Regions from separate parts of the Homo sapiens genome. Here regions 2, 3 and 4 are each linked to region 1. Evidence: fine-mapped expression QTL. A gene starts in region 1. Each other region holds a variant in brackets. All regions are shown on one strand. Distances are between the middles of the regions.

The links. PIP is the estimated chance that this variant, and not a neighbour inherited with it, causes the effect. A credible set is the group of variants that fine-mapping cannot tell apart.
Region 2: its variant is the best candidate, but not a certain one, in a credible set for the expression of MADD in whole blood (INTERVAL, PIP 0.72).
Region 3: its variant is the best candidate, but not a certain one, in a credible set for the expression of MADD in whole blood (TOPMed, PIP 0.52).
Region 4: its variant is the best candidate, but not a certain one, in a credible set for the expression of MADD in monocytes after interferon gamma (Fairfax 2014, PIP 0.54).

The regions. Positions count from the first base shown.
Region 1 is chr11:47,264,798-47,272,030 of GRCh38, forward strand. MADD (MAP kinase activating death domain) reads left to right here and starts at 5,336. Exons shown (of 37, transcript NM_001376571.1): 1 at 5,336-5,449. It overlaps NR1H3 (nuclear receptor subfamily 1 group H member 3), which reads left to right. Exons shown (of 10, transcript NM_005693.4): 8 at 3,116-3,229; 9 at 3,464-3,558; 10 at 3,753-4,236. The coding sequence ends at 3,899. It overlaps MADD-AS1 (MADD antisense RNA 1), which reads right to left. Exons shown (of 3, transcript NR_120569.1): 2 at 6,282-6,344; 3 at 5,860-6,183. RefSeq lists enhancers at 441-735, 4,518-4,627, 5,101-5,395 and silencers at 4,778-4,887, 5,098-5,627.
Region 2 is chr11:47,326,703-47,333,510 of GRCh38, forward strand. MADD (MAP kinase activating death domain) reads left to right here. Exons shown (of 37, transcript NM_001376571.1): 35 at 36-105; 36 at 1,956-2,002; 37 at 2,344-3,329. The coding sequence ends at 2,448. MYBPC3 (myosin binding protein C3) reads right to left here. Exons shown (of 35, transcript NM_000256.3): 30 at 6,492-6,631; 31 at 6,112-6,271; 32 at 5,864-6,000; 33 at 5,370-5,556; 34 at 5,143-5,179; 35 at 4,704-5,014. The coding sequence ends at 5,169. Among named protein-coding and RNA genes, the nearest start is that of MYBPC3, 23 kb to the right of the region's middle. The variant G/A (reference allele first, on the strand shown) is at 4,609.
Region 3 is chr11:46,950,841-46,958,105 of GRCh38, forward strand. The region is part of intron 1 of CSTPP1 (centriolar satellite-associated tubulin polyglutamylase complex regulator 1); the gene reads left to right. Among named protein-coding and RNA genes, the nearest start is that of CSTPP1, 18 kb to the left of the region's middle. The variant T/A (reference allele first, on the strand shown) is at 3,857.
Region 4 is chr11:47,381,643-47,388,907 of GRCh38, forward strand. SLC39A13-AS1 (SLC39A13 antisense RNA 1) reads right to left here. Exons shown (of 4, transcript NR_182308.1): 4 at 1-2,190. Among named protein-coding and RNA genes, the nearest start is that of SPI1, 6.7 kb to the left of the region's middle. The variant G/A (reference allele first, on the strand shown) is at 3,317.

The DNA of each region.
Region 1 (7,233 bases):
CCCTCCCTATCCGCTACTATTTACTGCATGCAGTAGATAACTGGTGACATGGACTGAGCACATTTGAGGTGTTCATTCCGTGGGCATCAGCAGACCCTCAGAGGTGCATTAGCTAACTATAGAACCTCCTCTTAATTTCTCTATAAAGGGGGCTGTTTGCCACACTTTGGGGCTCAAAACCTCACCAAGAAATGCTTTAGAAAATGGGGCTTGCCGCCGGGCGTGGTGGCTTACACCTGAAATCCCAGCACTTTGGGAGGCCGAGGCAGGCGGATCACCTGAGGTCAGGAGTTCGAGACCAGCCTGGCCCATATGGCAAAACCCCATCTCTACTGAAAATACAAAAATTAGCTGGGCGTGGTGGTGCACACCTGTGGTCCCAGCTACTCAGGAGGCTGAGGCAGGAGAATTGCTTGAACCAGAAGGCTGAGGTTGCAGTGAGCTGAGATCGCGCCACTGCACTCCAGCCTGGGTGACAGAGCAAGACTCCATCTCAAAAAAAGAAAAAAGAAAAAGAAAATGGGGCCTGCCCATTAAATGGACCAACACACAACACTTGATAAACATCAGGGTGAAAGTACAGGAAGTGACTCACCAAGAAGCCTTGAATGGAAAAGTGTAGCAGATGGTTGCTAAAAGAAATCTGACAAAGCCTGGGGAACTCTGTAGGGTGCAGAGACTTTGACAATGTGTATGAGAGACATTCTCTAGGTATCATTACTTTAGCTCATGTTTTGTTGCATTTTAGTCTTCTCAGCAGGAAGACTGTTTCCAAGAAAAATGTATTATTTATTGACCAGGCGCGGTGGCTCATGCCTGTAATCCCAGTACTTTGGGAGGCCGAGGCAGGCAGATCACGAGGTCAAGAGATCGAGACCATCCTGGCCAACATGGTGAAATCCTGTCTCTACTAAAAATACAAAAATTAGCTGGGCGTGGTGACATGCACCAGTAGTCCCAGCTACTCAAGAGGCTGAGGCAGGAGAATTGCTTGAACCTGGGAGGCAGAGCTTGCAGTGAGCCGAGATCATGCAACTGCACTCTAGTCTGGCAACAGAGCAAGACTCTTTGTCTCAAAAAAAATTTTTTTATTTATTTTACAAACACTTATGTGGTAGTTACCATATATGCCACATATTTATGAGATAGGTACTATTATTATTCCCATTTTACAGATGGGAAAACCAAAGCCCAGAGAGGTTAAATAACTTACACAAGGTCACACTGCCTTGTAAGTGGTAGAGGCAGGACTCAACCCGAGGCAGTCTGGCACCAAAATCCACATCCTCACCCATACTGCAATATTCCCTCGAGGATGTGATACATGAAATGTATCTCTAGTGTTCAAATAAGTAAGGCCAATGCCAGTGAAAAACAAGTCTTTTTTTTTTCTTTGAAACAGGGTCTCGCTCTGTCGCCCAGGCTGAATGCAGTGGTGTGATCAATCATGGCTCAATGCAGCCTCGACCTTCTGGGCTCAAGTGATCCTCCTTGAGTAGCTGGGACTACAGGTGTGAACCACCGTGCCCTGCTGAAAAAGGATTTTTTTTTTTTTTGAGCCAGAATCTTGCTCTGTCGCCCAGGCTGGAGTGCAAGTAGAACAATCTCGGCTCACTGCAACCTCCACCTCCCAGGTTCAAGCAATTCGCCTGCTCAGCCTCCCGAGTAGCTGGGACTACAGGTGCGCCACCATGCCCAGTTAATTTTTGTATTTTTAGTAGAGACCGGGTTTCACTGTGTTGCCCAGGCTGGTCTCAAACTCTTGAGCTCAGGCAATCCGTCTGCCTCGGCCTCCTAAAGTGCTGGGATTATAGGGATAAGCCACCGCATCCAGCCTTTTTTCTTTTTCTTTTTTTTTTTTTGAGATGGAGTTTCGCTCTGTCATCCAGGCTGGAGTGCAGTGGCGTGATCTCGGCTTACTGCAACCTCCGCCTCCCAGATTCAAGCAATTCTCCTGCCTCAGCCTCCTAAGTAGCTGGAATTACAGGAGTGCACCACCACGCCCAGCTAATTTTTGTATTTTCAGTGAGACAGGGTTTTGCCATGTCGGCCAGGCTGGTCTCAAACTCCTGAACTCAGGTGATCCCCCTGCCTCGGCCTCCCAAAATACTGGGATTACAGGCATGAACCGCCGTGCCTTGCTGAAAAACGATTCTTGATAAACAAAAATAAGAGTTGCCTCTATTTCTAGAAATGTGGAGCCCTCAAGAATTTTAATGACAGAATTGGCAGGTGATGGTGTCTGGTGCCTGTAATCCCAGCACTTTGGGAGGGCGAGGCGGGTGGATTGCTTGAGTCCAGGAGTTCGAGACCAGCCTGGGCAACATGGTGAAATCCTGTCACAACTGAAAATATAAGAATTAGCTACTTGTGATGGTATGCACCTGTAGTCCCAGCTACTAGGGAGGCTGAAGTAGGAGGATGGCTTGCACCCGGGAGGTCGAGGCTGCAGTGAGCTGTGATTGTGCCACTGCACTCCAGTCTGGGTGATAGAACAAGACCCTGTCTCAAAGAAAAAAAACAAGAATACCAGAATTATTATTTAATTCAGCACCTCTTGTGTGCCAGACACAGCGCTAAGTGCCCTGCATACTTTGTCATTGAACTATACCAACAATTTTCTGAGAAGGGTTCAGATATGATTCCCATTTCACAGATGAGGCTTATAGAGGGGTTAAGACATTTGCTCAAGGTTACACAGCAAAGCCTTGTAGACCTTTTTTTTTTTTTTGACGGAATCTCGCTCTATCGCCCAGGCTGGAGTGCAGTAGTGCAATCTTGGGTCACTGCAACCTCTGCCTCCCGTGTTCAAGCAATTCTCCTGCCTCAGCCTCCCAAGTAGCTGGGATTACAGGCACCTGCCACCACGCCCGGCTAGTTTTTGTGTTTTTAGTACAGACGGGGTTTCGCCATGTTGGCCAGGCTCTTCTCGAACTCCTGACTTCAGGTGATCCGCCCGCCTCAGCCTCCGAAAGTGCTGGGATTACAGGCGTGAGCCACTGTGCCCGGCCTCAGTAAACTTCTTAGTGAGTTCCTAATAGTTCCCTAAGGTGAGGAGAGAAGAAAGTTCCTGCTGCTCCTGCTGCTTGCGTCAGCCTCCCTTCTTCCTCCCCAGGGCTGCAAGTGGAATTCATCAACCCCATCTTCGAGTTCTCCAGGGCCATGAATGAGCTGCAACTCAATGATGCCGAGTTTGCCTTGCTCATTGCTATCAGCATCTTCTCTGCAGGTGTGGAGGAGGGGCAATGGGAAACAGCAAGAGACTTACACCAAGGAGGGCTGCAGGTCCCACAGGAATCGGTGGGGGGAGGGGGGTGGTGGCTTGGGAGGGTGGAGGCATTTGCTGTGTTATTTTAGGATGAGAGAGCTTGGCTGGAGCATGTCTCTATATTTTGGTTGCAATTTGGGGTATGGAACTGGACCCTGGCCAGACCTGCTCCTCAACTCTCTTGGTGACCTATAGACCGGCCCAACGTGCAGGACCAGCTCCAGGTAGAGAGGCTGCAGCACACATATGTGGAAGCCCTGCATGCCTACGTCTCCATCCACCATCCCCATGTGAGTCTCCCCATGGTGTTCCTTTTCCTCCTTCCCACACACAGGCCCATTCCCTGACATACCTACTTTCCCTTCAAGAATTTCTCTCTGACTGCATGCTGTGCAGACAATTCACCTCTCCCACAACTCCCCTACTCTTGCCCCGCTTCCCTGGGGACAGGCAAAAGCTGTGTTTGTCTCTCTCCTTTCCCCAGGACCGACTGATGTTCCCACGGATGCTAATGAAACTGGTGAGCCTCCGGACCCTGAGCAGCGTCCACTCAGAGCAAGTGTTTGCACTGCGTCTGCAGGACAAAAAGCTCCCACCGCTGCTCTCTGAGATCTGGGATGTGCACGAATGACTGTTCTGTCCCCATATTTTCTGTTTTCTTGGCCGGATGGCTGAGGCCTGGTGGCTGCCTCCTAGAAGTGGAACAGACTGAGAAGGGCAAACATTCCTGGGAGCTGGGCAAGGAGATCCTCCCGTGGCATTAAAAGAGAGTCAAAGGGTTGCGAGTTTTGTGGCTACTGAGCAGTGGAGCCCTCGCTAACACTGTGCTGTGTCTGAAGATCATGCTGACCCCACAAACGGATGGGCCTGGGGGCCACTTTGCACAGGGTTCTCCAGAGCCCTGCCCATCCTGCCTCCACCACTTCCTGTTTTTCCCACAGGGCCCCAAGAAAAATTCTCCACTGTCACTCTGTGGTATGGCCATAAATGCCTCAGCGCCGCCTCACTGATAGGTCTGGTACTGTTTGAACAGGAAGATCAAAATGAATACAAAATGAGAGAAACCAATTTCTGGATTGGGGGTGGGGACACGGTAATAGAGGAGGAAGCCTGCGATCTTTAGGATCCGCCTCCAGGCCCAGAGGAGGGAGAGTCACAAATGACAGCCTTGGCCGTGAGAGGGGGCCTCTTCTTACTAACCCCCACTGCGCCATATGGGTAAATGGAATGCTGAGGCTTAGGCGCCCCCTTCCCCTGCTGGGATCCGGGTAGGATCCGGTTGCCTTTCTGCGGTGGAGGAGGAAGTGTTGGATTTCAGCGCTAAGGCGTCGGCGGTGCACCTCACGTGCATGTGTAGCATGCCTTGGTTTTTCCTTTGGCATCTGAAAAAGGCACAACCTGAAAGACCTAGAACCCAGTGTCGGTCCCCAGGCCCTTTGGGACAGGAAGAGAAGAGCCGTGTGGCCGCGGGGAGGATGTCCTGAGGCGGGGCTGTCCTCGCGGACTGACTGGACTCCATCTCCCAGCGGGCGCCGCGGCGCGGCCACGCCCCCCCACTCCCCGCGCGCGCCCGGTGGAGGTAACCGCGGCCGCGCGCCCCCCTCTGCCCCCGCTGCCCAGGATTGGTAGGCTCCACCGCTCGGCAGCCGGCTTCCCTGCTCGGACGCCGAGCACCGCCAAAGCGCGTGAGTGGGGGGTGGGGACTGGGGGATGGGGAGCCCGTCAGGAAGTCTCAGGGGCCGATTATCTTGGGAAGTGACTTTCAGAGGAATCCCCATGTCGTCGAAACGGGCGCTATGACCCCGTCGGGTGAGAGTCTCTCTGAGCAACCCAAACAGAAGGTACTGCTGTGGGTCCCCCACTTGGCACGCGACGGCGCTGGGTCGGCCTGGCGCGCCCTCCCGCGCCCACGGGCGCTAGGCTAGGTCTGTGCGCAGCCGCTGTCTCCCGAGGTCGGCCCCGCCCCGCGGCGCTCGGCTCGGTGCAGCCCCGGCCCCCCGGGCTGAATGGTACGGCCCCGGCCCCGGCCTCCCCCTCCGCACCCCGCGCGAGTGGTGCGTGCCCCCCAGTGCAGACGCGGAACTGGCGCCCGCTCGGAGCGGCGCCGCGCTGGGGAGCGACTGACGCCCCGCTGCCGGGGGACGTCGGGCTGGGCCTGGCCAGTCCCCCAGAGCTTGGGAGGTAGGAGAGTCTGGGCCGGTGGGGTCCTGGGCGAGCGTCTGGGGACTCCGAGCGGGAGACGGGCTCTGAGAGGACACCGTGGCTCTTGGAGGAAGGGGTCTCTCAGGAGGCCCTGGGGGAGTGTGAAGGGGCGTGGGGACGGGGGTCTGCCGAGGAGGGGCGGGGACGGGGATGGGGGCGCCCCGGGCAGAGGAGGGGGCTCAGGCTACTGGGCTTGGTTCCTGCCGAGCGGGCGGCTCGGGTTCAGGTTCGGGGCGGGGGCGGGGGCGGGGGAGAACTGTCCAGCAGGTGAGGGGGCGGGCAGAGCTGGCCAGCCCTGGGGCCGAACCCGCACAGCGCTTGGCGGGTGTGCTTGTGCGTGTGCGTGCTTGCGCCTTATTTTTGGCTAGAATTTGGAGAAACACGTTTGGTTCTCAAGAAATTTTTTTTTTAACTTGATATTTCAAAATTGACTTGCTGGAGAGAGAACACCATTTCATCTTTCTGCAATCGCTCTCCTCCCCATCCTCGTGTATCTACCTTCTTCCACCTTTCCCTGCCCTCCCCTCTACCCCAACCCTGCCAGCTGCCAGCCTCCTTGCTCCAGTTCTCCCATACGCTGGACCAGTCTGTGCTGATGAGCTTGCAAGGTCACTGCCTGGGGAGGTAGAGGAGGGGAGGAGAGCCTCCTGTTGTGTTCACGTCAGCAGAGATGTCATATCGCTCTCTGGTTCCTGTGGTTTTACTGTGAGATCCTGTCCAAAATGAGGGACGAATCCAAAGGGTTGGTTAGCATGGCTATTTCTGCTGAAAAGGCATAGATAACTTAAAAGTTTGTGAATCCTAAATCTACCTCTGGGTGGAGCTGATGGTGATGTCGGACTTCAGCAGATAGATATGCATTTTGAGCTGGATGCTTTTGGAATACAGGAAGATAGGAACCAGAGGCTCTACGTTAGTAAACATGGTTGAGGCAAGAGGCAGAGTCGGAGCCTCGTTGGTTGTGAAGACAAGAGTGTGAGTTGTGGGTGATGTTAGAGGATTTAGTCTTTAGAGGAGTTAAAGGTGTTAGTCTTTTTGGGGAGGGGAGAGAGGAGAGAATGAGAAGGAAAATCTTAGTTATCTTTGCAATCTGAATAACTGAAGGCAGTGGCTGCTGATCAGATGTGAACTCTGGCTAAAAATTTATCCTACCACCCGTAGCTAGAATAATAACAAGATCTCAGGGTCCTTGTGGCTCTGGAAGGAAATGATTGTGAGTGACTTGAGTTTCGTCAGATAGTTGTCAGTGGAGAGGGACTGAGATCCCACCAAGGCTAGAGAGGCCTGATGCGTACTCAGTAGGAGGTGCTTCAGGCCTGATCTTTGAGATTTTGGTTGGAGAGGGCTCCGGGTTTTCAATGTAAACATAGATTGCAAGGTGTAGTCTAGAGCTCTGGTTCTATAAATTCTGTTTTACTTTAAGATACTTTGGCTCTCACTCTAGTCATTTCTACATAATTCTTTTTTTTTTTTCGAATCCCATGACAGGTTAACTACATAATTCTTTATTAAAACAAATTATGCTTTTTACTCATATCCCATTTCATTTCTCTATTTCTCTCCCCCTTGGATTCTGCTCAGGAGGAGCTGAGTGCGGCTCTGTTATAGTGCCCCACCTCCTGCAGTTTGCTCATGACTCTATTGCAGTTGGGAGAACCAAGGGACTATTTGGGTTCGTTAAGCAGTGGTGATACCTAGAAATGAATATATGGCGTGCTCAGAAACCTGGTGGTGTTCTAGAGATATCACTATCAAAAGCCAGA
Region 2 (6,808 bases), 62 kb after region 1:
TGGGCCTTACCCCGGCCTCCCTCCCTCTCTTGCAGGTTTTCATAGAGCTGAATCACATTAAAAAGTGCAATACAGTTCGAGGCGTCTTTGTCCTGGAGGAATTTGGTAATTACACTATTTTGCTCTTAGGTCTGGACTCACATGGCAGTAACTCAAACCTCGGAGCTCCAGAGGAGGGTCTAGGGGCAGGGAGAAGAAGAACCTCTGTAGAGAAGTCAGGAGGAGCAGGAGTGACAAGGAAGAAAAGGGACCCCTGAGATGAGAGCCGGGATGTGGAAGGGAAAGATAGATAATGGATCGCAGAAGAGCAAATGGGGCCTCAGGTGGGTTTCGAGTTTAGAGGTGGTCCTGAAGCAGCTCAGTGAAGTAGCACCACCTCCCCGTGCTGGGCCAGCCAGTGGTCAGAAAGTTTGGGACACAGCAGACTGGCGACCCCCAAGCTCCACTATGTCCATGTCACCTGCTGCAATCTCTCTAGCAGCCCAGTGCGCTAGCCAGCCTCCCTGGCGCCGCTCTGGTCTCCACCTGGCCTCTGTGCCAGACAAAGGGGCACCGGGCGTCGCAGGCAGACTCACTTGAGGGACAGAGGAGTCTAGCGGGACAGCTGTAGCCGGAAGCTGGGAGCCAGCGCTAGGGAGTGGTGTAGTGGGTTCTCACCCTGGGGCTTTGAGTTCCTGCTGTGTTTGTGCTTCATTCTTTTGTGCCCCTCATCGCTGCTATGAAAACCTTCGTTCTCCAGCAGGTAAAGTGACCTCGGCTCGTGCTGCCTCTCCCCAGGTCTCTGCCTTGGGCCCTGCCCTGGGTGGGTAGCTCCCATCGAACCAGCTCCTCACACTGCCAGCTCGTCTCTTCCTTTCTCCCCTACCCTCTTTCTTCCTACCTTGCCTCCCCCTTCTCACCGGCTCACTGGACTTTCCTCCCCGTGTGTTCCCTTCTCTCTTCTGTCAGAGAGATACTTGGGGGAATCTTCCAACTCGGGAGAATGGCCTGGGGCTTCTTGCTCTACCTTTGATGAGTTTATTCCCTGCTGACCCTGGGTTCCCCCAAATTCTACCTCCCAGGGTCAGAAGAAGGTACGGCCAATTCTCCTCCTGCCTTTTCTGGCCCCCAGGGAGATGCCAGGCCCCTCTGCTCCCAGTCTCAAGGGGCCATGATGGTGGCTGAGCCTGGGGGGCCTACTCCTTCCTCTGGCCAAGCAGAACCCCTGCATGGCTGGAGCGGGGGGACTCTCACTCTTGCCTTCTGGGCTGTGGACATGTGTGTATTTTGCCTGATGCTCCCTGTCACCTCCCTCCCTGGGTGCTGTACTCGCCTGTCTTCTGCTGGGTGTGTTGCTCCAGAGCCCTCAGACGCTCTCCCTCACACAGGCAGGTCTGGGCTTCTCCTGCCACTCAGGGAAGGACACTGCCACATCCTGTGGGTTTATATCATGTTACCTCTTCATCCAGCCTCAAGACCCTCTGTGTAGGGGGCTGGGAATAACGGGAACTGTGTTTAACATGACCCAATTTTCAGGCTGGTGACGAGTTCACGGGTGTCTCAGCAAAGTTGGACACAAGCTAGAGAGAGCTCTCTCCTCCCAGCCAAAACCTGGGAATTCCCCACTGCAGCTCCTCAGGGGCCCTGGACAGTAGCTGTGACCAGGCTGGTGAAAGGCCCGTCCCTCCCATCCAGGGCTTTCAAAGAAGTGGGTAGAATCACGGCCATCAAGTAAACGCCACTGCGGATGACAGAGGCCTAGCTGAGGAGGCTAGGGCCATGTCCTCCCAGCTGGCAGAGTCTGGACAGAGCCTCTGGTGGCCTCTGCCCTGTCATAGCCTAAGCTGCTGCAGCCACTGTGAGAGGCCACAGAGGGGAAGGGGACCCTGACGCCGGGCGCTGCCGCCTGGGGGAGCATGGCACGATTGCTCTTAGTGTTGAACTTTCTGTTTTGTCTCTTGCCCGTCCGGTTTTAGTTCCTGAAATTAAAGAAGTGGTGAGCCACAAGTACAAGACACCAATGGTGAGTGTGCCGCTCAACCCTGATGGGCCACGGTGCGCAGGGCTCCCTGGGGGACCTTCGGACAGGAGGAGGGGAGGGCCCTCTGAGCGCACAGGGGTGAGTGGGGACCTCGTTTTGTTGCCAAAGGTTCAACTCAGGCTGAAACAGGTCTTGAGCCCTGAGAGACAGACACACACACACGGATCCCCTCTCCCATGGGGACAGCTTCCTTGCTTGGAGCTCACGTTTAGCCCAGAGGCCCATGCCCAGTGTTAGGGCAGGAGTTGCCCATTGGCAGATCCTTCACATATGGAGATGGAGGAGTCTCAGTATCGTGATCCGCCTGGTTTTCTCTCCTCTAGGCCCACGAAATCTGCTACTCCGTATTATGTCTCTTCTCGTACGTGGCTGCAGTTCATAGCAGTGAGGAAGATCTCAGAACCCCGCCCCGGCCTGTCTCTAGCTGATGGAGAGGGGCTACGCAGCTGCCCCAGCCCAGGGCACGCCCCTGGCCCCTTGCTGTTCCCAAGTGCACGATGCTGCTGTGACTGAGGAGTGGATGATGCTCGTGTGTCCTCTGCAAGCCCCCTGCTGTGGCTTGGTTGGTTACCGGTTATGTGTCCCTCTGAGTGTGTCTTGAGCGTGTCCACCTTCTCCCTCTCCACTCCCAGAAGACCAAACTGCCTTCCCCTCAGGGCTCAAGAATGTGTACAGTCTGTGGGGCCGGTGTGAACCCACTATTTTGTGTCCTTGAGACATTTGTGTTGTGGTTCCTTGTCCTTGTCCCTGGCGTTATAACTGTCCACTGCAAGAGTCTGGCTCTCCCTTCTCTGTGACCCGGCATGACTGGGCGCCTGGAGCAGTTTCACTCTGTGAGGAGTGAGGGAACCCTGGGGCTCACCCTCTCAGAGGAAGGGCACAGAGAGGAAGGGAAGAATTGGGGGGCAGCCGGAGTGAGTGGCAGCCTCCCTGCTTCCTTCTGCATTCCCAAGCCGGCAGCTACTGCCCAGGGCCCGCAGTGTTGGCTGCTGCCTGCCACAGCCTCTGTGACTGCAGTGGAGCGGCGAATTCCCTGTGGCCTGCCATGCCTTCGGCATCAGAGGATGGAGTGGTCGAGGCTAGTGGAGTCCCAGGGACCGCTGGCTGCTCTGCCTGAGCATCAGGGAGGGGGCAGGAAAGACCAAGCTGGGTTTGCACATCTGTCTGCAGGCTGTCTCTCCAGGCACGGGGTGTCAGGAGGGAGAGACAGCCTGGGTATGGGCAAGAAATGACTGTAAATATTTCAGCCCCACATTATTTATAGAAAATGTACAGTTGTGTGAATGTGAAATAAATGTCCTCAACTCCCTTCAGGCTCCCTGGCTGCCTTGTGTTAAATGACACCTCCTCTTGGCTCAGGCCTGAGGAAAGCTATCCCTGGACTCTAAAAAGTCACCTCAGGCTGGAAGGAAGGAAGGAGATGAGGTCATCCATGTCCAAGCTTTGGCACACGGAGGCCCCAGCTCCCCTGTTCTGGGCTCCTAGAGCAAGGCTGCGGGAGGAGCTTTCCTTCCTGGGCACCTGAGGGCCCTGCAGAGAGCTGGGCTGCCATGAATGAACAGGCTGCTAGAGGGAGCAGCCAGACTGGGCGTCCTCACCTGAACTGAGATTAAGTGAAAGAAAGCCAAGGCCCTGGCCCTCTCCGTTCCCTTACAGGTGGGTATGGTCGAGAGAGGTGTGGTGATTCAGCCAGGGCCTCCCACAGGGCCCCGGACTCCTGGCCAGGAGTGTCTTCCACTGCATAGAACTCCCAGAAGCTCCCCTAGGAGCTGCCTTCATGGAATTCTGTCCTGGAAAAACCTGGCTGCACTCTCAGGGAATTTGAGACCTGCTGGCTTCCCGCGCCCAAAAGGAAACAGATGCTCGGATTTAGGCTCCCCATGGGGGAAGTGAGAGCAGAGTGGGGCCCTGGCCCTGACACCTTTCTGGTGCCCAGCGTCCTGGACTGGATTGGGTTGCTGTCTCCCACCGGGGATATGGGTCTGAACCCGCTGCTGGCTTATTGCTGGCTGGGACTCCAAAGCCACCTAGTGCAGCTCCACCCCAGCACAATCACAACACTGAGATTCTGCCTCACCCCACCTCCAGGCGGTTGTGACCACGGCCCCTGGCACAAGGATCACGCTGAGCACCTGGGACCAGTTAAATGCACTTTCCGCTGTCACAGCTCAGTTTCATCATCTGAAGAGTGAATGCTGTAGGGGAAGACAGGTTCCTTCTAGCGTTAATGTTTTATGAACTCAGAAACCACTCTGGGCCTGGTTTAATCATCGGGAAAACAAAACAAAAAACAGTATCTGCTCTCACTTTGCTGTGAAGATCAATGTCCCTGGGCTTTTTTCTTTTTTTTTTTTTGAGACATGGTCTCACTCCATCACCCAGGCTGAAGTGCAGTGGCATGATCTCGGCCCACCTCAAACTCTACCTCCTGGGTTCAGGTGATTCTCCTGCCTCAGCCTTCCAAATAGCTGGGATTATAGGCGCGCCACCTTGCCCAGCTAATTTTTGTATTTTTAGTAGAGACGGGGTTTCACCATGTTGGCCAGGCTGGTCTTGATCTCCTGACCTCAGGTGATCGGCCCGCCTCC[G/A]CCTCCCAAAGTGCTGGGATAACAGGCATGAGCCACCGCACCTGGCCATCCCCTGTGCATTTTTATGAAAACAGGCACACCGAAATTGAGAAGAGTGAGTTCTCTGTGACTGCACTTATCTTTTATTGCCCAATAAACATTGGGAAGACATAGCAGGCCAGAAAGGCCTGTCCCCAGACATTGTTTCTTGAGGCCACCCTCCTTTTACCCCAAAGATCCAGGGGCTTCCTTCAGGAGCCCTGTGGACCAGTCTGTGCAACACCCACTCAGGACTGCCCGACAACTGCCCTGCTGATCCCCCATCGCAGCACAGGAGACACACTTGTCACACATACATCCAACAGTAGGGAGGGGTTTCCCCAACTTCCCTCCAGGCTCCTGGCACGGGGCTGGCATCCGGTTGTACCTGCAACACAGGTTATCTTACGAGTGAATGGAGGGCCCCTACAGCCTCCCATTTACTGATGGCTGCCCCAGGACCAAGGGCCAGGGCTCAGCCACTGACTTGTGCCCTGGGTGTCGGGTGGTACATACCTGGCCATCCCCAGGAGCCAGCCTGGTCACTGAGGCACTGCAGAAGAGGAGGCCATGTCACTGTGTCCTCCCAGCCTTCTGGAAGCTATTGCCCATCTGGGCGTGGCAGGGTCCGTGCCCTTGCAGCCAGGGCAGGTGCTTGGCCGAGGACAACGGAGCAAAGCCCAGGGTCCCCACTGCCGCCCGCTCTTCCCATCTCCCAGGCCCTGGCCCCGAGGGCTCCTCACCTCGCACCTCCAGGCGGCACTCACACCGTGCCTCGCCCTGTAAGTTGGTGGCCCTGCAGACATAGATGCCCCCGTCAAAGGGGCAGGGCTTTCTAATCTCCAGAGTCAACACTCCCTGCTTGCTGAACATGCGGAAGCGGGCGTCTTCTCCCAGGTCCAGGCCATTCTTGAACCAGGAAATCTTGGGCTATAAATAAGGTAAAGAGAGGGAGGGAAGCCATCCAGGCTGAGAGGGGACCTGGCAGGGACCCAGGGAGACACATCTGTGTTTCTACTCGGGGGGTCCCACGAGAGTCCCTGACTATGCCCAAGGCTGGAAACAAACATGGAACCAAGAGTGAGTACCATGGCCCTGCCCAGGGGGAGGAACCCGGTCCATACACCCCAAGGTGGAGAGAAAGCAGGGGAGACAGGCTGGGGAGAGGACTGCTCAACGTCGGGGCCTGTGAGCCCTGCCTCCTGGTCGGCCTGGACCAGCGCCTAAAGTTCCCTACCTTGGGGCTACCCCGGACAGCACAGCAGAGCATAGCAGTGTAGCCCGCGATGACCGAGCGGTTCACCAGGGGCTGGGTGAAGCTTGGGGCCTCGGAGAAGTCCAGGGCCTTATAGTTGGGTGGCTCATAGGTGATGCCTGTTGGTGACAGGACTTGGTACCGAGAGGGCCACACAAAGCTAGGCCCCTCTCCCTGTTCCCACAGCCTCCCTGCCCCAGCCCCTGGTTGGAAGAATGAGGGTACAGCACCTGGTCTGGGGATAAAGACGGGCTCCTTGGTGGTGGCCGCTCTGTCACTAAAGCCAACCATATTCTGGCTGAAGACGCGGAAGTAGTAGCCATTGCCAATGATGAGCTCTGGCACCACGCAGTGGGTGCGGCGGTAATGCTCCAAGACGGTGAACCACTCCTGGGGGCAGGGAGGGAGGGGAGGCATCTCTGGGCCAGGCCCTTCCTGATGCCGAGAGCCTCTCCTGGGTGCCCTTGGCATCTCCACCCCTACTATGGAGGGATTCAGATCAGCAGAGGGAGGGTGAGGGGTCCACGGTGAGGACAGTGAAGGGTAGCTGCGGCCTGGGTCTGCCGGGCCTAGGCAGGGTGCACGTGGGGACCCCAGACCCTGGGCTCACCATGGTCTTCTTGTCGGCTTTCTGCACTGTGTACCCCCAGAGCTCCGTGTTGCCGACATCCTGGGGTGGCTTCCACTCCAGAGCCACATTAAGACCCCAGGCGTCAGTCACCCGGAGATCCTGGGGAGGACTTGGCTTGTCTGCGGGAGACAGACCCAGTTGGGTCACCACGCCTCCTGACAGTGAGCAGGGGGTCACTGGCTCCAGGGACCACCCCACCCCTGCCAACCAGGGCCAGGCCTGCTGGGGCAGTGGACTGGAAAATGTGAGCTGTGGGTTGGGTCCCCTGGCCCCACCCTTGGCCCCAGCAGCCCAGC
Region 3 (7,265 bases), 310 kb before region 1:
GTGGTCTTGAACTCCTGACCTCATGAGCCACCCGCCTCAGCCTCCCAAAATGCTGGGATTACAGCCATGAGCCACCAGGCCTGGCCTGGAAACTGTTTTCAAATAGGTGTTCTTCATATGCCATCTAGAGTAATTCTCATATGCAGGAGGACTGAAGGAGACAGCAGTCTCGTTCAGTCCTCACAGCAGGTAGACACCAGCTGATCCCACTTTTCTTTGAGGAAACTGGGATTTAAGTTATATAACTTGTCCAAGGTCACTGAGCTAGTATGTCTGGAGCTGAAGTTTGAATGAAGTTTATCTGACTCTAAAGCCAGTAGTATTGTTAGCCACTTTCTTTCAGGTTTTGTAATTTCTAAGAGCCTTCTTTCCCATTCAGTTCAATAAAAATTTAAGTGTCAGAACTTAAATTCAGTAGAAAATTCTACAGAATATATGATATATTCCTTAGACTCTTTTTTTTTTTTTTTTTTTGAGACAAGGTCTCACTCTGTCATCCAGGCTGAAGTGCAGTGGCATGATCATGGCTCAGTGTAGCCTCGACCTCCTGAGCTCAGGTGATCCTCCCACCTCAGCCTCCCAGGTAGCTGGGACTATAGGAGTGTGCTACCATGCCTAGCTAATTTTTAAATTCTTTGTTTGTTATGTTGCCCAGGCTGGTCTCGAACTCCTGGGCTCAGGTGATCCACCCGCCTTGGCCTCCCACAGTGCTGAGATTACAGACGTGAGCCACCATACCCTGCCAGATTGTTTTAATATATAGAAGATAATTTAACATTTTCTTGGTGAGGTAGTGTCATTATTTTAGACCTAATTTATTATATTGTGCTATAAATGTGTTATAACAGTTACCCATGAAGATGGATGTTATTTTTTTTATGCATGAGAAGAAATGGTGGCTCAAATAACTTAAGTAAATTTTCCATTTATATAGATAGCAGTTAGTGAAGCTGTTATTTGATTCTAATTCTTCTAATTTGAAATTAAGTGGTTTAGGTGCCACTCAGTGTTAAATTCTAATTTATAGCTATTAATTAATAAGAAGACATCTCCCTGCTCCCACACCAGTACTTACCATTCCCTTCTCTCCAGACTAATGTTTCCTACTGAGTCAGTAAGCTGTTGAGGTCTACTGAGGTTTGTTTGGCGCTTCAGGTGGTTTGGTGCTCCTAATCTCTCAGGGTATTAGGGTGAGGGCTGAGCTGGTGTTATAAAAACAAAACAAAACAAAAAACCTCCACCACTTAACTCCCCCTCCCTCCCAGTGCAATGGCTCATACAAGAAGCACTTTCTTTCTTTCTTACTTAATCCAAATCCAGGATGTGAAAGGCAGGGTCTGCTTTAGGAAGTCATCATTGGATTTCAGCTAGCAGAGCAGTCATTCTGTCTGAAACACATGGTTTCCAAAGCTGCCTCAATTGTAGCCATTTTCAGCCAGTAAAAGGGGAAACAGTGAATCCAGGGCAAGGACCTTTTAGGCAAGTGAAGCCGAAGATGCAAACATCACTTGTGCTCACATTTCATAGGTGAGAACTTAATAAGGTCCCTGCTAACTGCCAACGAGGCAGGGAATTTTAGTCTAATGGACAGTCGTGTGCAAGAAGAATGGCAGTGTATTTTTGGTGGTACACAAACAAAAATCTGTCATACCTAGTATATGCGGTGGAGACATCTACCCTACTCAAGGCAAGTTGTATTGTTGGTAGCTGCTTGCCCTTATTCACAGGTGAAGCATAGATGTGCTGGTCAGTATTTGGTTTTTGTCCTCTACCTCTTGAAGTACAAAGTTATTTTATCCTTGGTCCCTGTCTCTGAGTTCAGTTGCTCCCTTTTTACAATGGTTATTATTTTCTTTCTTAACTTTATGTTGCCTGTCATTTCTCTGTGTCACTTCCTGTCCTTTGTAAACATTTCCAATAATCAGAATAGTTCCTCTCTATACTCTAGTGAGTCGTTCACCTTAGTGAGAACATGTAATTTTAGAATTTTTAGTTCTTTATAATTGGTTTGTTGCTGGGCGTTGGAGGTAACTTTGCTGCTAAATAATTTTATTTTTCTATTGAGAGTTAGAGACCCATTGTAGAAACCAAAATCTTGTTTCCAGAGAGCTAGTTTTACAATAAAGAAAGATATTTATCTTCCTAGACTGGAGAGTGATTTGTAAGAGATTTAGGAGGAGAGTGAGAAAAAGGCAGTGCCACAGACACTGGGGACGTGGGGGTGGAGAGTTTCAAGATGGAGGAAGTGTTCAATGATACCAGATGCCTCAGAGAGGTCAAAGAAGATACGGGCTGCAAGGCAGGTTGTTAGTGGCATTAAGGGAGGTTTTCATGGAGTAGTGTGGCAAGATGCCTGATTTTGCTGGATTGAAGAGTAAATCGGAGGGTGAAGGCGTTGAGAATAGGCTAGATTCGTTTCAAGAAGTTTGACCAATTAGGGAAAGGAGGAGAGGGGGTGATAGCAAGAGGAGGAAGAGAGAGTTTATTGTTTTTAGTTTTTAGATGGGAGAAACTTGAGTATGTTTTTAGGCTGAAGGGAAAGGAACCATTGTACAGGGAGAGAGGGAAGATCCAAGGGAAGGAAAGGATGATGAATACTTGATGGAACATTTTTAGAAGTACGAGGAAATTTAGGATCAAAGGCAGAGGTGCAAGGCTATTTTGAAGTTGGGAGTCAGGACCATATTTATCCAGAAGGCACTGTTTGTGTGGTGCCTAACCAACAAACTGTTATGGGATCTTTGAAAATATTTGAGACCTAAAAAAAAATTTATCAACCCTAAAGTATGGATATATGTTTTATTATATATGTATAAAACAATATAATGTCAACTTTCATTATTACATGTAATATTGACAGACATTTTGCCATATTTGAAAGCAATTCATAAGTAAGAATTTTCTCAATTAGGAAGAATTCCCAAGTGAGAAATCAGGTCTTAAGGTGATCTTAAAACCGCTTCACATGGCGTAATTAAATTTGAACAACAGAGGTGGGAAGTAAGGGTGATGAAGGACATGGTTAAACTTAGAAATGGAGCTAGAAATTGGTGTTCTTTACCTGATGACCTCTTCTTTGTCTGAAGTAAGAATCAAGATTATCTTCTTAGAGTTAGGGAAGCAGAAGTAAAAGGCTTGAGGAGAGCAAAGAAAGTTTGTATTAGCTACTGGGGGAAAGAAGAAAGATAGCTCGACTAGGGCCAAGTACAAGTATTCTGAGCTACATTAAAGCATGTGAAGTAAGGCTGCATAAATCATTTTAAAAAAAGAAGTAACTAAGAATGCTAACAGGAGCAAAGTTGACTATGGGAATTGGTAAAAGAAAAAATACAAAAGCATTACAAAATAATAATTAGAAGAAACAGTTGAAAAACTCTTTTAGGAAAACATGATGTCACAAATAATGCATAAGAAGAGGGAGGATTCGGCTGGATGCAGTAGCTTATGCCTATAATCCTAGCACGTTGGGAGGCTGAGGCTGGTGGATCACTTGAGGTCAGGAGTTCGAGACCAGCCTGGCCAATGTGGTGAAACCCCATTTCTACTAAAAATACAAAATTTGGTTGGGTATGGTGGCAGGTGCCTATAATTCCGGCTACCCTGGAGGCTGAGGCAGGAGAATCGCTTGAACCCTGGAGGCAGAGGTGGCAGTGAGCCGAGATCGTACCACTGCACTTCAGCCTGGGCGACACAGTGAGACTCTGTTTTGAAAAAATAAATAAATAAATAAAAAATAAAATAAAAAAGAAGAGGGAGAATCCAGAGAGCGCAAAATTCCACTTCTTCCATTGAAGAAAGTTCAAAGAATTGCTGGATTTAAAGTTTTTGATGTTTATGTTTCTTAACTACAGAATTT[T/A]AAAAATCAAATGGGTCTATAAGAGTTATAACAAAAAAAAGCAGTACCCTACACCATAACCTTCTCACCCCGAAGTCTCACTCCTCAGAGGAGGCCATTTTCTTTCTTTTTTTTTTTTTTGAGTACCAGTAAGTCTTTATTTATTCATTGTATTTTCCCAGGGAAAGGAGAAGGGAAGGGAAGAGTCAGCATGTGTTAAAAAATGATGAGAAAATGGGAAAGGAAGTACCCAGTACAGCAAAATCAACCGTCAAATAAACACACCCCAGTGATGGGGTCACCAAAGCCCAAAGGGGCTCAGTCTCCTGCAGTTCAGGAATGAGGGAAAAGGATCAGGAAAAAAACAGACAGGTACAGGCTTTCCTACCCTCCCTCCCCATAAATTCAAGATTTTACACAAAGCTTTGGTTTCTAGCAGTAAACATGGAGTTACATTCATTCATCTCCTATTAAACAATCTTGTGGCCACTTTGACATAAGTTTCTACCACCTGCATAAAAGTTCCTGAGTGACTTGGATATACATTCATATTCCCTTTCTTGGCCTCCTGACCCCACTTTCTACATGGAAGGCCCCCAATTGCATCTCTTTACTTTAGGATTAGAAATTAAAAGTAAGTAGGTTTGATCCATCCAAAATACAGTAGTGTGGTTTTTTTTTTGTTGTTTTTTTGTTTTTTTTTTTTCGAGACAGGGTCTTGCTCTGTAACCAGGCTGGAGTGCAGTGGTGCGATCTCAGCTCACTGCAACCTCCGCCTTCCAGGTTAAAGCGATTCCCCCGCCTCAGCCTCCTGAATAGCCGGGACCACAGGTATGCGCCACCACACCTGGCTAATTTTTTTGTATTTCAGCAGAGACGGGGTTTCACCGTGTTGGCCAGGATGGTTTTGAACTCCTGACCTTGTGATTCGCCCGCCTCAGCCTTCCAAAGTGCTGGGACTACAGGTGTGAGCCACTGCGCCCAGGCTACAGCAGTGTCTTAAGTGTTTGGCATGAATACATGAAGAAATGGTCGGCCTAGCGTGGTGGCTCATGCCTGCAATCCTAGTACCCTGGGAAGCCAAGGTGGGCAGATCACCTGAGGTCAGGAGTTCCAGACCAGCCTGGACAACACGGTGAAACCCCGTCTCTACTAAAAATAAAAAAATTAGCTGGGCGCGGCGGGTGCCTGAAATCCCAGCTACTCAGGAGGCTGAGGCAGGAGAATCGCCCGAACCCAAGAGGCAGAGGCTGCAGTGAGCCGATCATGCCACTGCACTCCAGCCTGGGCGACAGAGCGAGACTCCATCCACCCCCCCCCCCCCACCAAAAAAAGAAAGAAATGGTAATGGTCTTGACTTAGGAGGTTGGGAACAAGGGATGGAGGGTTTTCCTAGCTTCAGGATTTTTGCATACATCATTTAAGAGTTGTGGAGACACTCCAAGCATTAAATGTGTATGTGTGTGGGTGTGTAAGTTTTCTTTTGGGGGTGAACAGAAAAGAGGGCAGGGTAGAAGACAAGTTTTTAGGACAGAAGATCTGGTCTAATAGGTAATAGGGGAAGGGGAATACAAAAGAAAGGATGGTTCAAGATCCCCACTTTAAGAAGCGGGCCCCCCAAACTAATGTTTCAGATCTTTTTGCCTGGTGCAGAAACTTCTGTCAAAGATGCTTTGGCTATTTTTCTCTCAATACAAAAAGAACTTTGTAAACAAAACCCCCAAAGAACACGGAGGAAGACCAATACATTATATTTACACAAACTAGGCCACCTAGCAATCAACTTAGTGAAGTCCTACAAAGCCCAGACAAATACAGTAACTTGGGGGGCAGCATTTAGGGGAGACAAGAACCCAGGATCAGACACACACCACCCAATGCGTTCTATTGTATTTGTCCCGTTTCAACACAGTGAGGTAGGTTTGCGGTGATCTCACAGCATGTAAACGAAACCCCCTTTTTCGAGGAGGCCATTTTCAAATTTTTCAGCATTAAAAACAATTTTTTTTTGCTGTGTACTTTAAAATAACATGCTTAAATTGCTCTTCTTGATTTTTCAGTTTTAGATATTATTTAATGACTTTATATTATAGAAGATGAGGATTTAGGTCTCTTATACTACTCAATTTCCCTTCTTCCTAGTCTTCCAACAAAATTATTATAATTTTTGGTTAAATCAATATTCAGTGTTTATTATGACTGTGAAAATTATACATATGTATGCACGTATACATAGTATATATGTATATATATATACACACAGTATACAACATATATATGTAAAATATATATAATATAGTATACTATGATTACATTTCTCCTTTTTGAACATTTTTTTTCATTTTCCTGCAATTAATAATTGCCTTTCCTTTTGTGCATGGTTTTCGATGAACTTGTGCCCCAGACTTTATAGCCTAAGGTCAGTTCAAACACATCAGGCATCCTCTCAGTTTCAATTTCTTTTCTTCAAGGTAACTTTTCTGAAGTACTTCTTCATCTAACTGGTCCCCCTGCTTCAGTCTGGCCTGGTTGCTCTCTAAATCCTTCATCTTTATCATGGGTATTACTTCATTCTTCATCCTTACATGGATATTACTTGTCTTGCTTAAGTAAGTTTTAGTGCATATTTCCTAAAGCCTATGTCTTCCTTTTTCCTTACATGTTCCTTCTTTTTATTAGATTGCATCCTCTAGTAGCTTTCTGAGAAAGGGTGCATGCAAAGTAATATTTTAGGGAATCTTCTGTTTATGAAAATGACTTTATACTACCCTTACCCTTGATTGATAGTTTAGATACATATAAAATTCTGTGTTGGAGATAATTTTCCCTTAGAATTTTTAAAGCATTTCTCCCCTATCTTTTAGCTTTCTGTATTGCTATTGAGTGATCTAATGCCATTCTGATTTGTGATATTTCATGTAGTTTTACATTGGTGTGGATCTTCTTTCATTGTCTTGAGATCCTTTCAGTGTAGAAATTCATGTATATCAGTTCTGAGAAGTTTTCTTGAATTATGTGTTTAATATTGTCTCATCTCTGTTCTATCTCTGGAACTGTTGTTACTTAGACATTGGACTTATGGATTTATGCTCTAATTTTTCTTGTTTTCTCTTTTCTGTCTTTTTTGATTTTTGTATGTTATATGAATATCCTTAACCTTTCCAATCCTTTTGTTGAATATCAAAAATATCTATTGTATTAGCCAGAGTTCCCCAGAAAAACTGAACTAATAGGATATGTAAAGACCTAGATACATAGCTATATAGATATACAGCTGACCCTTGAACAACATGGATTTGAATTGTGTGATCCACTTATACACAGATTTTCTTTGCCACCTCTGAGACAGTAAGATCAACCCCCTCCATTTCTACCTCCTCAGCCTATTCAGTGTGAAAACAACGATGAAGACCTTTATAATGAATGATCT
Region 4 (7,265 bases), 120 kb after region 1:
GGTTAGATACTCAGTGAGATTGCTGGATCAAATGATATTTCTTTTCCTTTCTTCTTTTCTCTCTTTTTCTTTTTCTTTTGAGACTGAGTTTCGCTCTTGTTGCCCAGGCTGGAGTGCAGTGGCACAATCTTGGCTCACTTTGCCTCCCGGGTTCAAATGATTCTCCTGCCTCAGCCTCCTGAGTAGCTGGGATTACAGGCGCCCGCCACCACGCCCAGCTAATTATTGTATTTTTAGTAGAGATGGGGTTTCATCATTGTTGGCCAGGCTAGTCTCAAACTCCTGATCTCATGTGATCCACCTGCCTCGGCCTCCCAAAGTGCTGGGATTACAGACGTGAGCCACCATGCTTGGCCAGTTCTTTTTCTTTTGAGACAGAATGCCACTTTATCACTGAGGCTGGAGTGCAATGGCGTGATCTTGGCCCACTGTAGCCTGGACCTCCTGGGCTCAAGCGATCCTCCCGCCTCAGCCTCTGGAGTAGCTGGTACTATGGATGTGTGCCACCTGTAGTCTCATCTAATTTTCTGTATTTTTTGTAGAGATAGGGTTTCACCATGTTGCCCAGGCTGATCTTGAACTCCTGGGCTCAAGCAATCCACCTGCCTCAGCCTTCCCAAATGTTGGGATTATAGGTGTGAGCCACTGCATCTGGCCAAAAGGTAGTTCTGTTTTTAGTTCTTTGAGAAATCTCCATACTCTTTTCCGTAGAGGTTGTCATTTAATCACTTACTTTTTATTGAGTGTCTTCCATGGTCTGGGCCTAGTAAGGGGGATAGACATGAATGAGGCATACTCGGAGCCTCCAGCAGCTTACAGGCCTGCAGAGGGTCATGTGAGCAGATAGTGGGGCAAGAGAGGAGGTGCCAGGTACACTTGGTCTCAAAGGTGCATTAGGGAACCATTGATTGGGTCAGGGTCCCAGATAGGATGGCTTAGGGAAGCGTGCAGGGGGAAAGCATGTCTGGCTGAGAATCAACTTAAGCAAAGGAAACGAAGAGGAAAACAGGAAGCCACCATCTTTGCAGCTGGAAGCAAAGCAGGACAGGAAAGCAAAGAGCCTTGAGTGCCAAGCCAAGGAGCCTGAGTCGTGTGCAGGGATGGCTGTGGAGTCTTTGCTGGTTGTAAGCAAGGAGTATGGGGGCTGTCCTCCGTGGGTGCAGCCAAGAAACACAGTAGACTGTGTGTTCCCGAGGCCTAAGATTCAAGGGGCTCCAGGAGAAGGAAGATATCCCATTGCCTCAAGTATGGCCAAGCTCAAGGGGCCTGGGTGAGGAACTCCATAAAAGAGATCCAGGGTCAATAACCTCTGGAAATAGGCAGAATGTCCTCTGCCCTCTGGGCAATGCTAGAGTGTCCTCCCAACTCCTCTTTCCACTCCTCCCCCTCCCAAAGTACATCAGAAGCCTCATCCCCTTACATCCCCAGGGACCCGTGGTAATTCAAATTCTTGGGAATAGTAGGACCCAGATTCCAAGAACAGGAACGGTTTGGTAATCCATAACCTCACGGTTAGTAGTTCCTTAAAAAGGAAAAGAAAAAAATTTTTGAGTGCCTGGCACCATTCTGGGTGCTTCCACCCTATGATCTCACATCACCAAGACAGCCATCTGTTGAACTGAGGCCCAAGAGACCAGTGACTGGCCCAGGGTTGCACAGCATGTGTGGGTAGAGAGCTGGGGCATGAACCCTGGCTTCTGGGGCTCTAGGAAGGGCTGGGTCTTCTGGGGAGGGAAGGAAGCTAGAGGAAGAACGGAGAGAGACTGAGAAGCTGAGGCAGGGAGCAGGGAGGAAGGGGAGGGAGGAGAAGAGAGGAAGGGAAAGAGAAGCAAAATAGCAAGATCAAAGGAGGGAGCAGAGAGAAGGGAGAAACAGGACAAGAGGTGAGGAGGCAGCACGAACCTCAGGCGAAAAAGAGGAGAGCAGGGCGAAGGCAGATGGAGGAGGAGGAGGACAGAGGAGGGACAACGAGGAGGTTTTGGGGAGACAGGGACAGTGGCTGGCTGGAGGTGATGGGACCCCAGAGGAACACATTCCCAGCTTCTCCCTCCTGCAGCAGAGCAAAAGAGGGGCAGAGAAGGTCCCTGACTTGCAGGAGGTCAGCAGGTGCATCGTGCTGGAATGTGGCTCCATTTCATTCTGGTCAGCAGGAAATTGGTTTGAAACCAAAAATCTTGGACGCTCTAGGGACTGAAAAACAAAAACATCATTTTTAATTATTTTATTTTTTGAATAGATAACATGTGCACATGGTACAAAATTCAAAAGGTACAAAAAAGGTAAACAACTGCCCAGTTCCCCTTCCACAGACTAGCCCACTTGTTACCTGATCTTGTGTTTTGGTCTAGAAATCATCTACACAGCGTGTAGCAGATATATTTTTAAAAATTTTACACAGAGGGGGCCGGGCGTGGTGGCTCACGCCTGTAATCCCAGCATTTTGGGAGGCCAAGGGGGGTGGATCACGAGGTCAGGAGATTGAGACCATCCTGGCTAACACGGTGAAACCCCATCTCTACTAAAAAAAAAATACAAAAAATTAGCCGGGCGTGGTGGCGGGCGCCTGTAGTCCCAGCTACTCGGGAGGCTGAGGCAGGAGAATGGTGTGAACCCGGGAGGCGGAGCTTGCAGTGAGCCGAGATCGTGCCACTGCACTCCAGCCTGGGCGTTAGAGCGAGACTCCGTCTCAAAAAAAAAAAAGGAAAGAAAAAAATTTTTTACACAGAGGGGGGCACATTAAACATATTGTAGTTCCCTTGTTTTTTTTCCCCAATATACATGTCACACCCATGTAGCACTGTCTTGTCCTTCTGAGTTTTTTCCATTTATAGTTTTTGTGGGTACATAGTAGGTGTGTTTATTTATGGGGTACATGAGATATTTTGATACAGGCATAAATTGTGTAATAATCACATCAGTAAATGGGGTATCCACCACCTCAAGCATTTTTCATTTCCTTGTGTTACCAACATTCCAATTATATTCTTTTAGTTATTTTTAAATACACTATAAATTAGTGTTGACTGTAGTGTCTTTTTAATGGCCGTATAGTATTCCACTATTTGGATTTACCAGGATATTTTTAAGTCATGAGAGACATCGTTCATTTAGAAGAGTAAATACAATATTTATGTGCAGTTTAAAGAATAATTATAAAGCAGCCGGGTGCAGTGGCTCATGCCTGTAATGCCATCACTTTGGGAGGCCGAGGCAGGCAGATCACCAAGTCAGGAGATTGAGACCATCCTGGCTAACACGGTGAAACCCCGTCTCTACTAAAAATACAAAAAAAAAAATTAGCCAGGCATGGTGGCAC[G/A]GTCTGTAGTCCCAACTACTCGGGAGGCTAAGGTAGGAGAATGGTGTGAACCCGGGAGGCAGAGCTTGCAGTGAGCCGAGATCGCGCCACTGCACTCCAGCCTGGGCGACAGAGCAAGACTCCGTCTCCAAAAAAAAAAAAAAAAGATAATTATAAAGCTGACATCTATGTAACCACCATCCAGGTAAAGAAATAAAAAAGTTGCCAGAAAGGCCGGGCGCGGTGGCTCACGCCTGTAATCCCAGCACTTTGGGAGGCTGAGGTGGGCAGATCACGAGGTCAGGCGATCGAGACCATCCTGGCTAACACGGTGAAACCCCATCTGTACTAAAAATACAAAAAAAAATTAGCCGGGCGTGGTGGCGGGTGCCTGTAGTCCCAGCTACTTGGGAGGCTGAGGCAGGAGAATGACGTGAACCTGGGAGGAAGAGATTGCAGTGAGCCGAGATCGCGCCACTGCACTCCAGCCTGGGTGACAGGGCAAGACTCCATCTCAAAAAAAAAAACAAAACAAAACAACAAAAAAACATTGCCAGAACCCCAGAAGAATCCCCAAATGTCCCCTACTTCCCTCTAGAAATAACACTGTCCTAACTTTTTCAGTAATTTTCTACTTGCTTTTCTTTTATTTTTTATTTATTTATTTTTTTTCCGACGGAGTCTCACCCTGTCGCCCAGGCTGGAGTGCGATGGCATGATCTTGGCTCACTGCAACCTCTGCCTCCCAGATTGAAGTGATTCTCCTGCCTCACCCTCCCGTGTAGCTGGGATTACAGCCGTGTGCCACCACACCCGGCTAATTGTTTGTATCTTTAGTAGAGACAGGGTTTCACCATGTTGGCCAGGCTGGTCTCAAACTCCTGACCTCATTATTTGCCCGCCTCAGCCTCCCAAAGTTCTGGAATTACAGGCATGAGCCAACGCACAGGCCTCTTGCTTTTTCTCTTGCTTTCCCTTATAGTTCAGTTTTTATTTTAACAGGTTTTAATCTTTATATTAAAAAAATCATAGTGTAAATATCCTTTTGGGTCTTTCTTCTTTTCCCCACCATGTTATTCTGTGTCGCTATGGTCCATTTTCATTGCTGGATAGTATTCCAGTGTTATTTATTTACTTATCTTTTTGAGATGGAGTCTCGCTTTGTCACCCAGGCTGGAGTGCAGTGGCATGATCTCGGCTCACTGCAACCTCCGCTTCCTGGGTTCAAGCAATTATCCTGCCTCAGCCTCTCCAGTAGCTGGGATTACAGACATGGGCAACCACTCCCAGCTAATTTTTGTATTTTTGGTAGAGACAGGGTTTCACCATGTTGGCCAGGCTGGTCTCAAACTCCTGATCTCCAGTGATCCCCCTGCCTTGGCCTCCCAAAGTGCTGGGAATACAGGCGTGAGCCACCGCACCCAGCATTCCATTGTTATTTAACCAGTCTCTCATCAGTATATATGTATTTTTGAGACAGGGTCTCATTCTGCACACACAGCTGGAGTGTAGTGGTTCTATCATGGCTCACTGCAGCCTCGACCTCCTGGGCTCAGGCGATCCTCCCACCTCAGCCCCCCAAGTAGCTTTAACCACTTATTGATGGACATTTGTTTCGAGTCTTTTGCTATTACAAATAATACAGCAATCAATAACATATGCTAAATTACATATATGCAGGAGGGAGGATGTCTAGGAGAGATTCCCAAAAGTTGAATTACCAGGTCAAAGGACAGTGCATTTTTCATTTTTTAATTTTTATGTATGTATTTATGTATTTTATTTTATTTTATTTTATTGAGATGGAGTCTTGCCCTGTCACCCAGGCTGGAGTGCAGTGGAGCAATCTTGGCTCACTGCAGCCTCCACCTTCTGGGTTCAAGCAATTCTCCTGCCTCAGCCTCCTGAGTAGCTGGGATTACGGGTGCACGCCACCATGCCCAGCTAATGTTTTTTGTATTTTTAGTAGAGACAGGAGTTTTGCCATGTTGCCAAGGCTGGGTCTCAAACCCCTGGGCTCAAGCGATCCACCCACCTTGGCCTCCCAAAGTGCTGGGATTACAGGCATGAGCCACCACTCCTGGCCTGTATTTATTTTTTAGAGATAGAGTCTCCCTCTGCTGCCCAGGGTGGTCTCGAACTCCTGCCCTCCAGCCATCCTCCTGCCTTGGCCTCCCAAAGTGCTGAGATTACACGTGTGAGCCACTATGCCCTCTGTGCATTGTTAATTTTGAGACAGATGATGGATAGACAGACAGGGCGGGTGCAGTGGCTCACGCCTGTAATCCCAACACTTTGAGAGGCCAAAGTGGGAGAATCACTTGAACCCAGGAGTTTGAGACCAGCCTGGGCAACATAGGGAGACCCCATCTCTAAAAAAATTTTCAAAATTAGCTTGGTGGGGTGGTGGTGGTGGTGGTGTGTGCCTGTGGTGCCAGCTACTCAGGAGGCTGAAATGGGAGGATTGGTTGAGCCCTGGAGGATGAGGGTGCAGTGAACCATGATCACGCCACTGCACTGCAGCCTGGGTGACAGAACAAGACCCTGTCTTAAAAAAAAAAATAAGACTGGAAACAGATATTATCACATTGCCCTTAACAAAAGTTGTATCAGCCAGGCATGATAGCTCACGCCTGTAATCCCAGCACTCCCAGAGGCGAGTGGATCTCCTGAGGTCAGGAGTTTGAGACCAGCCTGGCCAACATGGTGAAACCCCGTCTCCACTAAAAATACAAAATTTAGCTGGGTGTGGTGGTGCACACCTGTAGTCCCAGCTACTCAGGAGGCTGAGGCAGGAGAATCACTTGAACCTGGGAGGCAGAGGTTGCAGTGAGCCAAGATGGCACCACTACACTCCAACCTGGGTGACAAGAGTGAAACTCCATCTCAAAAATAAATAAATAAATAATAATAAAAATAAAAGTTATACCTATTCATTATCCTACCAGTCCTGCTAGACAGTGCAGCTTCCCAGCCTACTAGACAAGTGGGAGACCCTGCAGGGGCTGGGCCTTGCAGAGTGACAGGGAGGCTGGGCAGGCCTAGGGTAGTGTGGCCCTTTGCCCCTGCTGGCTGGGTTGATGATAGGGGCAGGCCGGGTGCTAATGCAATCACAAAGCAGGCGGGCAACAGGAAACTTGAGGGGGTGTCCTCAAAGCTGAGTCCACAGAGGGGAGCACGACCCCTGACCTCATAGATCTCTCAGCCTTGGCCCAAACGAGCTAGAAAATGAGGAAATGTCCCCCCACCCACTTTCCTAGCAACCTGTCCCCATAGGGTGTGACAAGGCATGTGAGAACACACAGGCCTCAGACCAAGAGCTGGGAAAGTTGACCAAAAAGAGCTGAGCCTGTGGACAGAAATGGCAGTCTTGCAACTTCCTCTCATGGTTGAGACACTGGGAGAGGCTCCCTGGGCCCCAGCCAGGGTCAACTGGGCCCCTCCGAGCTCCCCAAGTTTTGTTGACAGCACTGGGCTGGCTCTTCAGTGCATTAAGGCCTTCAACAATGATTGACTCGGGGCCTCTGCATGCCAGGCAGCCCAAACAGGCAGGGCCCTTCATCCCCGCCCTCATGGGCCTGCTCTTCAGCAGGGCAAGACCCACGATGAACTCATGATAGCGAGTGTTCATTGCATGTTGGAAGGTGACACTCGCCATAGGAACAAGGGCATGCAGCTGGATAAGGGGCTTGCGGTAGGGGATGGAGTGGGCGGGGACAGTTTGCAGCATTCACGAGAGCAGGCAGGGCAGGCTTCACCAAGAGAGGTGCATCCGGCAAACCCTGGAAGCAAGTGAGGGAGCGAGCCAAGCAGATGTCTGGGAGAAGAATTCCGGGCAGAGGGACTAGTCAGTGCCAATGCCCCAGGCAGGAGCGTGAGCCAGAGATGGCAAGGAGGCCTATGGGGGCACAGCCAGTGGCAGAAGCTCAGACAGGGCCAGTCAGGTCAGGCCATGGTATGGAATTTGGCT